Homo sapiens: one gene and its partners. The protein of the gene in region 3 purifies or fractionates together with the protein of the main gene of each other region. This does not show direct contact. Each region holds a gene or a part of one and is shown on either strand. Other genes may lie near its edges. The genes, in order: BPIFB2, ALDH1A1 and EBF2.

What was found.
Region 1: the proteins of EBF2 (region 3) and BPIFB2 purify together in Homo sapiens (affinity purification with mass spectrometry; one large-scale study listed by BioGRID and IntAct). This does not show direct contact.
Region 2: the proteins of EBF2 (region 3) and ALDH1A1 purify together in Homo sapiens (affinity purification with mass spectrometry; one large-scale study listed by BioGRID and IntAct). This does not show direct contact.

The regions. Positions count from the first base shown.
Region 1 is NC_000020.11:33,006,060-33,009,809, forward strand, and holds the start of BPIFB2 (BPI fold-containing family B member 2 precursor), read left to right. Parts: upstream 1-1,644; 5' UTR 1,645-1,701; intron 1,702-2,481; 5' UTR 2,482-2,515; coding exon 2,516-2,624; intron 2,625-3,750.
Region 2 is NC_000009.12:72,943,047-72,946,696, forward strand, and holds part of ALDH1A1 (aldehyde dehydrogenase 1A1), read right to left. Parts: intron 1-3,650. UniProt on the Homo sapiens protein: Cytosolic dehydrogenase that catalyzes the irreversible oxidation of a wide range of aldehydes to their corresponding carboxylic acid.
Region 3 is NC_000008.11:26,043,288-26,047,037, forward strand, and holds the start of EBF2 (transcription factor COE2), read right to left. Parts: upstream 2,127-3,750; 5' UTR 1,573-2,126; coding exon 1,442-1,572; intron 1-1,441. UniProt on the Homo sapiens protein: Transcription factor that, in osteoblasts, activates the decoy receptor for RANKL, TNFRSF11B, which in turn regulates osteoclast differentiation. Acts in synergy with the Wnt-responsive LEF1/CTNNB1 pathway.

The DNA of each region.
Region 1 (3,750 bases), on a different chromosome or scaffold from region 3:
CCGGTTGAGATCTGGGATGGGCTGGTGAGAATCTCCCTCTTTTATGTCTACTGGCTGTCACCCAAATGGCTCTTGTGCTGGAAATATTTAAGAAAAGGAAGTGTCCAGGCCAACAGCAAACACCAAGAGTGGGTTTGGTCAATATTTGCGCCTCTGTCCACTGAGTCTGCTGTTTGCATCAGCTATGGTGAGGGCGCAGGAGGGGCCGGTCTTGGGCATTGGTGGACAGACCAAGGCCAGGAGCAGGGTGTCAGGGAGCTCACAGCAGGCTCTTCTCATTCCTCTTTGCGTCTAGAATAGGGGCAAGGGAGCACTGGTTGGGAGGCAGGGCTGGTTCAAGTGAGCTCCAGCTGCTCAGGGGAGGGCTTGATGGTGTCTGTGGTCAGCTTTGTAGACACTGGTGGAGGCCTAGCACAGGGTGGGCCTGGGAGCTGGGCCTGATATTTGGGCTGGTGTGGGGTCAGTGGGAGTCAAAGAGTGCCCTGGAGTTGGGGAAAGGCCCCAAGTCATCCTGTGCCAATGAAGAAAAATGGAAAGGCCATCGCCTGCTGTGCACACATATATGCACACACACAAGAACATATATACATGTACCTCCCCATCCCAGGAAACAGTCCACTTGCATACACACATGCACCTAACACCACACACTCACAGACCCACAAACACTCAGTAGGCCAAGCCCACACATGCATACATGTACACAAAACTCCCCACCTCTGTGGTCCTGTTGGATTGTGTGAATAGACACACAACACCATAAACCAAGATGCCAACGTGCCCATTTCATGTCCACACTCACACATAAGAGCACACATTTTCCCCGTACATGTGACTATGCACACACACTCACATGCATGTATCAACACAACCCTCATCCACACATGTGCATATGCAAATTCCTTCATGCGCACACACAGTTCCTTGGGTCCCATCCAGCCAAGGCGGAGGCTGACGTTTGTAATGTGGAAAGAGACCGTGGACTAATCCATTGTGAGTGGAATGTGCATTTGGAGAGAGGCTGGGATGTTAAGCTGTGGGGACAGGTCACGCACACTTTCTCTTCTGTTCCCTTCTGAGTTAGGGCTCAGTTTGTGACTGGGATCAGGGCTCAGCATGTGATCAGGGTCAGAGCTCAGTAACTGGGGTCAGGACTCAGTGTGTGAATATGTGACAGGGTCAGGGCTCAGTCAATGACTGAGGATGGTGCTCAGGTAGCCTTCTGCCCCTCCTAAAAGGGTCATGTTTCCGAGAGAGCTTGGAGGTACCAGGCTTGAGGGGTCATTGCAGCCATCCCCTTGCCTATGGGAGGGGGGATGGGGTCCTCATGGGCCCCATCCTCCCAGGCCTTGGCTGGGCATGATAAGATACCCTCCTAGAAGCAGCTTTCCTTCCAGAGATCTCCTGGCCCTCACTAAGGCCATAGCTGCCTAGCCCCAGGGGCTTGTAGTGGTTGGGAGCTGGGCCTGGCTACTGGCTACGTGGCAGCCCCAGCGCACATGTGGGATGAGACACTTTGGCAAAGGCCATGTTTGCAGGGAAAACACTTGCAACCACAAGCAAACTCGCCGCTCCCTGGGTCCCTTCCCAGTGGACTCTGCACATTGGGAGCCTTATAAAGTAGCCTCTGCATCTGCCTGCCTCGGGCAGAGGAGGGCTACCCTGGGGCTGAGAGTTCACCTGTCTCAGGAACCACCTGAGGTAGGCATGGGGCTGGGCTGGTACACCACTTCCAAGGAGGCTTGGCTTCTCTATCTGTTCAGTGGGGATGCTACCTCCAGCCACCCTCTGCAGAAGGGTCCTTCCACCCCTGGCCTTGCTGTAGGACCTGGGCAAGTGCCGCCATCCTGGGTCTCAGCAGACCCACCTGAGCCGCAGTCCCTCACTCCTGCCTGGCTCCCTCTCCCTGAGTCAGACACAGATCTGCCTATTTGGCCAGACTGAGTCAGGAGAGGATGGGGGCCATGTGAGAGGCCTACTCTTAGGCCATTTACCACCTGGCCAGGAGGGGATGAGGACAGGAGCCACCCTGGGTCCTCCCCTGGCTGAATTTGGTGGACAGCTGGACACCAAGCTGGCTGTCACACGGGGCTGGACTCCGGCATCAGGTGATACAGTCCTGGGCATCTTCTTGGGACAGGAAACTACCCTCAGTCTCCCCGTTTGGGAGTCTCACCATCCTTCTATGCCATGGCTTGGGTCCTGCACCTGGTCCCAGTCCACTGTGTGGCCCTAGGCAAGACCATTTCTTCTCTGGGCATTGCGGGTCATTTCCAGAAGGGACTCCCCCATGATTCCTGATGAAGCAAGCAAGGCAAGGTGATGGTTCCCAATGCAGAGATGCAAAAACTGATGTCTGTGGGCCTGGGGCAGGGCTGGGATCACCAGTCAGGGCTTGTTCCCTCCAGGCTGGAGTGGGGTTCGGGTGGCTCAGGGGTGGGCTGTTTTGGCTGAGCTCCCTGATGCTCATTTCTACCCCAGCCCACAGATCCTGTGGGCAGCGGCCAGGGCAGCCATGGCTTGGGCAAGTAGGCTGGGCCTGCTGCTGGCACTGCTGCTGCCCGTGGTCGGTGCCTCCACGCCAGGCACCGTGGTCCGACTCAACAAGGCAGCATTGAGCTACGGTAAGCGGTGTGTTACCCAGTGAGTGTCTGTGAGCCTGTACATGCGTGTGCAATCCTAAGTGTGTGTGCGTAGCTGTGAACTCAAAAGGCCCATGAGGACCCAGATTTTAATTGGAAGTTGTGTCCCTGGCACCCAGACAGTGCCTGACACATGGCGCTGCTCAACAAATGCTTATTACATAAATGCGTGAGGGGGGAGTACGTCATGTGGCCAGTGTGCAAGTGTGCACATGTGACTTGCTCACATGCTTTGGTGATGTGGGCATAGGTCGGTTTGAGGGGCTATTTTTACCTGTGTGTGTCTACTTATGAGTTTGAAATTTCATAGAGCTGTGCCCACGTGTGTACTTAAGTGTCGGGGAGGGTGCAAGCCCATGATGCTGCCTGGATGTGTGTGCACAGGTACGGCTGTTCACCCTGGGTGTACACGTTTGCGTATGTGGTGTGTGCACGCACGTGTGTTCTTGGGAGAGGTCTGTCTAGCACCGTGATGCAAGGAGTGTTCTAAAGTTATATCCCTTCTGAGCTCAGCGTGAGAGAACCATCCGCTCTCTGGGTCCCACTTGTGCGAGGGCTCTGTCTTACGGCTGTGCTGCTAGATCCTTCCAAGTCTTGCCCCAATCCCCTAAGGAGGGCACAATGAAGAAACTTAGCCCCAGGGAGGGACAGACATTGCCAAGGTCCAGGACGCCAGCACAAACATGTTTATTCACCTCGAGTTGCCTCCCGGTGAGAATTTGGTTTCCCACCAAAGCCAGGAGATCAGAAGCGGTTTCCCCCAAGGCCAAACTCAGATTACAGTGTGAGAAAGTCAGGTCAGACAGTAGATGGGACCTTCAGTGGCCCAGGACATGAAGCAGTGGCTCAGGGAAGTAGCAGGTTTCCCCCACCCCTGGGTAAACACAGCCTTCCGGGACCTCATATCCGGGCTGATGGGCAGGCAATGAAAGGGGTCAGTGATCCGTGCCAGAGCATGACATGGAGCCATTCATGGATGCCTGCAGGTAGGGCCATGAGGCCCGCGCCCTCCGCCGCCTTCCTGCCCTCTGCCCATCCTGTGCAAGCCTCCTTTGTCCCCAGGGAGCCCTCCCCAGCTTGCCTGCCTGTGTTTGTTTTTGGCAGAAAT
Region 2 (3,650 bases), on a different chromosome or scaffold from region 3:
TTTATTCACTTGGGAATTCTGCCTTCTCTCTGCCTAAAGATTGTATTACCACCTTAGATTTTGTACCTGTAAACTAAGGGAACACAGATTTCATTTTGGCAGAGATCCAGAATTTCACCCTTCTACAATGTAATTTCATTAAAAATAAAATAAAACAACATACAGAATCAATTACATTTTGCTAGGCCTGTGGTCGGACTTTCTAGTTCTCGCCCGAGTCCTCTTATCCTTAGGTCTGTGATAATCTGTGGTTTCAAGTTCTCAATAATATGCTCTCAATATATTATAGCTTATTTTACTCTCTTTACACACTTTTTTGTAAAAGAATTATTACAGTATGTATGTACCATCTAGTTCCATGATCAGAATTTGCATCTAAGCTGTACATAAAACTGCCACTTTAGATTAAAGCCAGTGAATGTTTTGTAAATGAGCATTAACCTGAAGTAATAACACATGTTTATCTGGCAGCCTGCAGGCAACTGAAGAGATCAGCTGTAGAGGACCCCAAATTACCAGCACTGTTCTGCATTATTCAGTTTTAACCTTTAAGACAGGAGGACACTGTGAGCCCAACTTGTGTTTGAACTTGTGTTGACATTTATATAATCATGATTAGTAACTTTTGCTTTATCAGAAAAGTGTTTGTCCAATAATGAGTAAATACTTGAGACATAGTCTGGCAGTTATTGTGGAAAAATGAGAGATGAGTTAGCCATGGCCTCTGCTCTCAGGGGCTTATAATCTAAGAGGAGAATGTATTCATATCAAGAGCCGCCAGTACAGAATTAAAGACTGTGGAGCAAAATGGCCAAAGCAGCGGTGTTGTCAATAAATGGTGTAGAGGGGCATAGGCTGAAAGAATGCTTCTTTGAAGGATGGAACTGGATTGGTGGAAAGAAGGAAAAAAAAAGAGTAAAGGGAGGGACAAATCTTTGGAGGTTTGTAACACAGTAAACAGAGCAGCTCCCAACAGAATGGAGTTGCAGTGGACATAAGTCACAGATAAGGCCTGACATTGAAAATAAAGTCAATTTGTGGCAGATCCTGATCCCCAGAGAAAGAAGTTTAGGCTCTATTCTGGATATAAAAAGGGAGAGAGACCAGATCAAATGGATGTTTAGGAATACTGATTTTAAAGTATCCCAAGTAGATTTGAAGTAGACCAACCAGAGTCCAAGAAATTAGCCTTGAGACTAATTTCATAATCCTATCATAAGGTCACAGGCTTTTGAAGGAGAGTGATGTAACAGTGCAGTCTACAAATTATGAATTATGCCATTCTCCCACAAACAGAGGCGTTTCAGCATGAAAAGGGAATTTGGCATAGGTAATGTGATGACCTAGATGGTTAGAAGGCCAGGTATTGCCCAGTCTTTTTCTTCCCCTTAGCTACAGATAATTTATTCATAGGGCCTACCTCAAATACATTTTTTTTCTGTTTTAATTATAGGAGCTTTACATTGGGCATTTGCCTTCCAGCTAACTGTGTGACCAAACGTTTTTGTATAATCACTGTTCCTATAGTTATATTAATGGTTATATGGAGAAGTCTAGGCTAATGAATGTTTGTTATAATAATTATAAAATTTACATTAGGCTTGTTTAATGTTCTATAATGGTGACAATATTATTTTCCATTTGTTTTTTGCCTTTAGCCAGCTTAGAGGAAAAGAGATGATACTATAAAAGTAAAATATTCTTGGGTTCTATGTAACCATTATATATTAACTCAATTCTAATTATGAATTTTGGACTTAGGTGACTTTTGAATAATATATATGTAAAGTAGACATCAACCTTCTGTTTGAAATATTGATTGGAAATTATAAATGCCTATGCATACTCTTGGACTTCAAGTACTTTCTATATGGGGAAGCAATCAATAGAAATGTTGAGGCAACTTAGAAATGGATTTTTACACTTCAGATTTTAGATATGCCACATTTTAAGAAATGCATCATTTTACCTTTGATAAACAAGTAGCCATTTCCTGGATTCAACTGGTGTCCAAGAATTAGTCATAATTGTGAAAAAAATTGCCTTTCCAGAGTAAAAGTTATTATGTCTTAATGTATTGTGTATAAATCTACAGTTCTAAATAAATAAGCATAATTTTCTCAAAATATTTCTGGCTTGGATAAAGCTAGTTTTGACTAGTGGCAAAATAAAGCCCTATTTGCCTTATCTGCTGATATGAGATTTTGGAGTCTGTGGGCTAAAGTGGGGAGCCCCTGACTCCTTGCAAAAGATACTCAGAGTGCCTTAAATTAATATTATCTCGGCAGGGCAGCAACTGGGCCAGCAGCCCTAGAGTCTGTAAAGGAAGGCAATACTTTCTTGGTGGGAGAGAGATTTTAAGAGATCACATTTTCAATGCACAAAGAATTTCTTTTAAGATTTTCCAAACGAGAGGGAGGGTGATGAGAGTCCCCATTTAATGTCATCCATGTGAATTTTCAAACTTGAGAACTGAGTCACAGCATAGGCTGCATGGGTGGTGGTGTGAACCTGTGGAGACTGGTGTGTGCTGTAAATGTGTCAACCTTTTCTCAGCTTAGGAACCTACCAAAGTACTAAAGGCCGCTGGGAGTCAGGGAGTATGAGATCGGAGATGAATAATGAGGAGGAGAGACTGAACAAAAGTCAGGTGGGGTGTTAAACATTTAAAAGAATCAAAGCTGGATCTCTGGCAACTGCTTTGCACCCTAACCCTGAGGCAGGAAAGCAAAATGTTGAGACTCAAAGTTAGAAAATGTAAAAGGAAATTAAGGAGGAAATAACAAAGGGAAAGAAAATTTTTAACTGTCATCAAATGAATGAAAACAAAATGACAGAATGACGAAAACAAAAAATAGGAGAAATAAAATTTTCCTTTCATTTGTTTTAAATGATAGTCTGACTTTAGTAACGTGAGTATATACTCTTTTTTCTTGTTGTTTGCAAAACCCCATCAGCCTTTTCAATTGTGTCAGGGAAAGAGAAAAGATGCCACAGCATTTGTTTTGAGCCACTCCATCACTGTGTCCTAGAGATGATAACAAAACTTGTCAGCAACTTCTGTACATCATATATTTTCTGTATCAGAGTTAAGATGTAGAAGCGATAGAAAGTTCTGCCCATTTTTAGCAGTATCAAGACCTAGTAATAGAATTGCTCGCATGTAAGCCCTCTTCCTTCTAAAAGAATGCCAAATATAAAGCATAATTCAGTAGTTATTTGTATTCCTTTGACATCTAAAAAAGTATCGATAGAGCAGTGGAAATAGTCAGTGGAAATGGGACCAGGGTTGGGGGAGGGAACGGTTCAGGCAAAGTTTTTAGAGATGTGAGATTTGTGCAAATTCCCCAGTGAACAAATTTCCATTAGTAAGTCAAACGTTACAATGAATCAGGTAGAGATAATATCAGAAAACCCAATATTAGCAACACTTCACATCCTTCTCAAGCAATGCTTCTAAGTTTGTGGATACTTTTGCTATATACATCTATACACCCAAAACATGTCAGCGTCAGGAAAACCAGTATTACACAGATTTACTTTTCTGATTTATTGGATTCTAAGTAAGGGTTTGTGAAGCAATCCTTGCTCAAATTCTTTTGAACATGGTTCTATGTTGTCACTTACACTTTGTAAACATATAATATATC
Region 3 (3,750 bases):
AACCCCGGTGCGCAAGCACCTTCATTCACTCTTTTGAAAGGGGTAACATTTTGGCTAAGCTCTCCCCCACTAAGTCTGCTCCTTCCAGCTTCAACAAACTTTTTGATCCCGGGAAGGAAGGAAAGCGAGGGAGGCGTCTTTAAGGAGCCCAGCTAAGGAAATGCGCGGCACAGTTGGCTCTGCGGTGCTGCCTTATTTCCCTTAGCTCGCAGGCGGGCCAGTCCCGAAGCGCTGCGGAAAGCCGCGGCCGCCGCGCTGTGCGGTCTGCCGGAGGGAAATCCGCGCTCCCCGGGCCACAGGAGGGAGGGAACCGCCGCCGGCCCAAGTCCCGGAGCGATAAAACTTCTGCTTTCTCCGCTCCAAGGGTAGAGGCCGGTTCGCTCTACCCGGGACACCTGGCCAGTTTGGGAAAGGGATCATTTCTCCGTGTGATGTTGGCACTTAAATGTGGGTGGCCAGGAGGGCAGCAGGGGAAGCGAGGGTAGTGGAAGAAGTTCATCGGCTCTTTGGGGGTAGAAGGGCTGCCTCTCTCGCAGACAAGGACCTGGAGGCCACAAATCCCAACTCAGTAGTGGTGATGAGAGAGTGGGACCGTAATGTCTTCGTAGGGTGGCACCCCGGACATGGTATTTACTATCCCAGCACGCAGACGCCTAAACACAAAGTCAACTTCAGGGATCCGCAAAACCAGAGGCTGGCGATCCCTGAGCCAGTCTAGCTGCTGGTGGCCTTTTCTCGCCTCTTTCTTCTTCCGCAACTCTTTCTACTGTGACTCAGTATTTTCTCTTCTTTTAAATCTCTTCTTTTCTCCAGTTCCCTAGCTCCGTTCGTCTGGCTCACTGTTTTATCTTTGAGCCGGGACCCTCCAGCCTGTCCCCCCTCCCAGAGCTCCCGGCCGCCTCGTCTTCCCGGGCAGCCGCTCCGGCTTTTCCCGCTCCCCTCGCCGCCGCCACCCTCTGGCCGCCGGCCTCCCAGGCTCCAGGAATCGCCCAGCAAGATGCGGGAGGTAGGCGCTCGCAGGCGGCGTGGCGAAGCCAAGAGTGGCCAGGAAGCCGGCTTTCCTCCCGCGCCGCCACTGCCAGCGCCGGTGTTCACGCTCCGTTCGGGGCCAGGCCGGCTCGGCTTGCAGGACTAGGGGCTGAGCTGGGAGATGTTGGGGGCTACTTTATTTTTCCTTGCAAAGAGTGGACTGTGGTAAAGGAGAGGGAGAGAAACGCCTACGACCCAGGCAGTTCAGGAACTCGAGTGCCGGCTGCCGGGTGAGCGTTCGCCTGACTGCAGCGATCTGCTTGCCCGAGGGCGAGCCCCAGCGCGCAGGGCCTGGGCGACAGATGGGGGGACAGGGAGAGAGAAAGGCACGGGGTGCGCGGGGGGGGTGCACACGGAGAGACAGACCGTAAGAGCGAGAGACAGCATAATAATTGCGCGGCCGTGTCGTTACCTCTGCGCGGCGACATTAGCGTCCACCACTCCGACATTCCGGACCCAGGACCTGACCGAATCCATCTCCGCGCCCAGCGATTTCTCTTTCAGAGTTGGTCCTCTTCCTAAAGTATCTTGAATTCCAAACATTTAAAAAGTCTGATCCTCTACTGTCGCTTTAAAAGTAAGAGTTACAACACAGTCCTGACTGTTCCCAACGTTGCCAGCAAATCGTCTCCTCCAAAGCAATCCAAGAAAAGGGATCAAGTGCCCAAGTTTGAGTCTTAGAAAAAAAAAAAAGATAACCCGTCCTTTGCTTCACTGGCGAGGTGCGGACTGATGTAGTCAAAGTTTGGGTTCTTATCCTCCGCAAGTTCAGATCTGCCGCCTCAGCCACTCCACCCTAGGTCGCTCGCATCCTTCCAGCTGCAGTGCTGCCTCCTGAAAGTGATCACAATTTAGAAGCATCACCTGTTCTGGGAGAAACTGGAGGAAATTGATGGCTGCCTAATCTCTCCCCTTCCTCCAGGTCCCCCCTCCCTGCTCCTCCCCACCGTTCCAATTTAGAAAAAAAAAAAATCCCCAACAGGATCAGTTGTAAAAAGAAGGGGAAGACCTGGAGCCGAGAGGAGGCGGTGGCTGCGAGCGCCACGGAGCCCGGCTGCAGCCGCGCGCGGGCCCCATGAATGGGTTACTACGGCCCTGGCTGCGGGAGGCGGAGCTGCGGCCCGATAAGGAGCCTCATTTGCATGGACGCGCGGGATTGGCCGGCGCCTGGCAAGCCGGGCCGACGTCCTCCGGCGGCGCGCGCCACGCTCTGCGTTGCCGGGACTCCGGGAGGTGAAAGGGGACAGAAAGCTGCGGGCGTCGAGTCCTAGCACGAACCCCGTGTGCTTGCGCAGGATTGGGGGGCCCCCACACCCTGCACTGACTTAGGGTAGCAGGTCTCTGCGGGCTGGGGACGCAGGGGTTCGGCCTGGCTGCGGGAAGCCTCCCTGGATCCTGCCTCTAGATGTAGGCTTTTGTAGCCTGCCGGGAGGCACGTTCGTTCCCGGGGTTCGGATCTGTGTGCATGCTTGTGAGCGTGGCCACATGTGCTTATGTTTTGCGCAAACGTCCCCCAGAGCACCCAGCTCCCTGAATGGCTCCCCAGGTCTCCTGGAGTTCCATGGTGATATCAGATGTTGTGTGCGGCTTGCACGTTGCTGAGAGTGGAGAACATATGAAAGAAGGCGGGGGATGGGGTGGGGCGGACAAGCGAGGGGCAAGTGCTGCTCAAATACAGTGCTGGGGAAAACGGTCCAGGACCTAAGGAAAACACCCGCGGGCGGGCGGGCGCGAGCGGCAGTCGCACCCGTGTGGAGGAGAGGTTGCTGACAGATCGAGGCGGGCTGAGTGCGCGAGCGGCCGGGGAGTATTCCCGCGGGTCCTCCGGTTCCCTCCCCACCTCTCCGTTCCCGAAGCCCCCGGTAGTGGGCGGGGAGGGACGGGGGAGTCGTGGAAACTTCGCCCACCGCGCGCGGTCGCCGCGGTGCTGGCCGCGGGCTGGTGGCCGGCAGGCGGTGGCAGCAGCCTCACCGAACAGCTGAAACCCTAGACGGTTTTTTAACTGCGCGGGGCTGCTCGCGGTGCCTATTAAACATCCTCCTGGCTGGGTGTCATTTTCTTGCTTCTCCTTTTGTATTCTGATCTGCGCATAGATCTGCTGCTGCTGAAATCTAGAACACCAGCGCGAAAACAGATTTGAAGACAATGAATGCAAATCTGTGCTCAAAGACCATCTGCCGTGGAGGAGACAATCAGCTGTTCGTAGTTCGAGCGATTGCGCCCCAGTCTCCCGGTCTCATTACGGGGAGGGCATTTGCGAGCGCCTGGACTGCGTTCAGGGCACTTTCTCCCCTCTTGGGTCTCAGATTTGAGAGACCAGATCCCTTAGGTGTAGGTGAGCGCTCGCAAATGAACTGCTAGAGTTTGCCGCTAGAGGACACAGCGCCTTGCAACTGGTTTGCCTAGGCTGACAGGAAGCTTGCACTTCAAGAAAACTCGGCTCTCTCGAGAAAGGGACCGGTGCGCGCCTCCACCTCCCCAAGGGACAAACCGCGGCACCACGCTGCGTGCGCGGGATTGCGACTAGGAAGTGCTGGTCCGAACTGCGGAGATTCGCTTGAAAACGGATAGGGGGTTAGGGAGTTTGCGGGGCGGGTGCACGGACCGTCTCTGCACAGGCCCCGGGATCCAGGGACTGGGGTCATTGATTTGGGGGAAGGTAGAGAAGGTAAACCCCCCGCCTCTGGGTTGTGTTGACTGTGGTACCCCGACCCCAGAGCT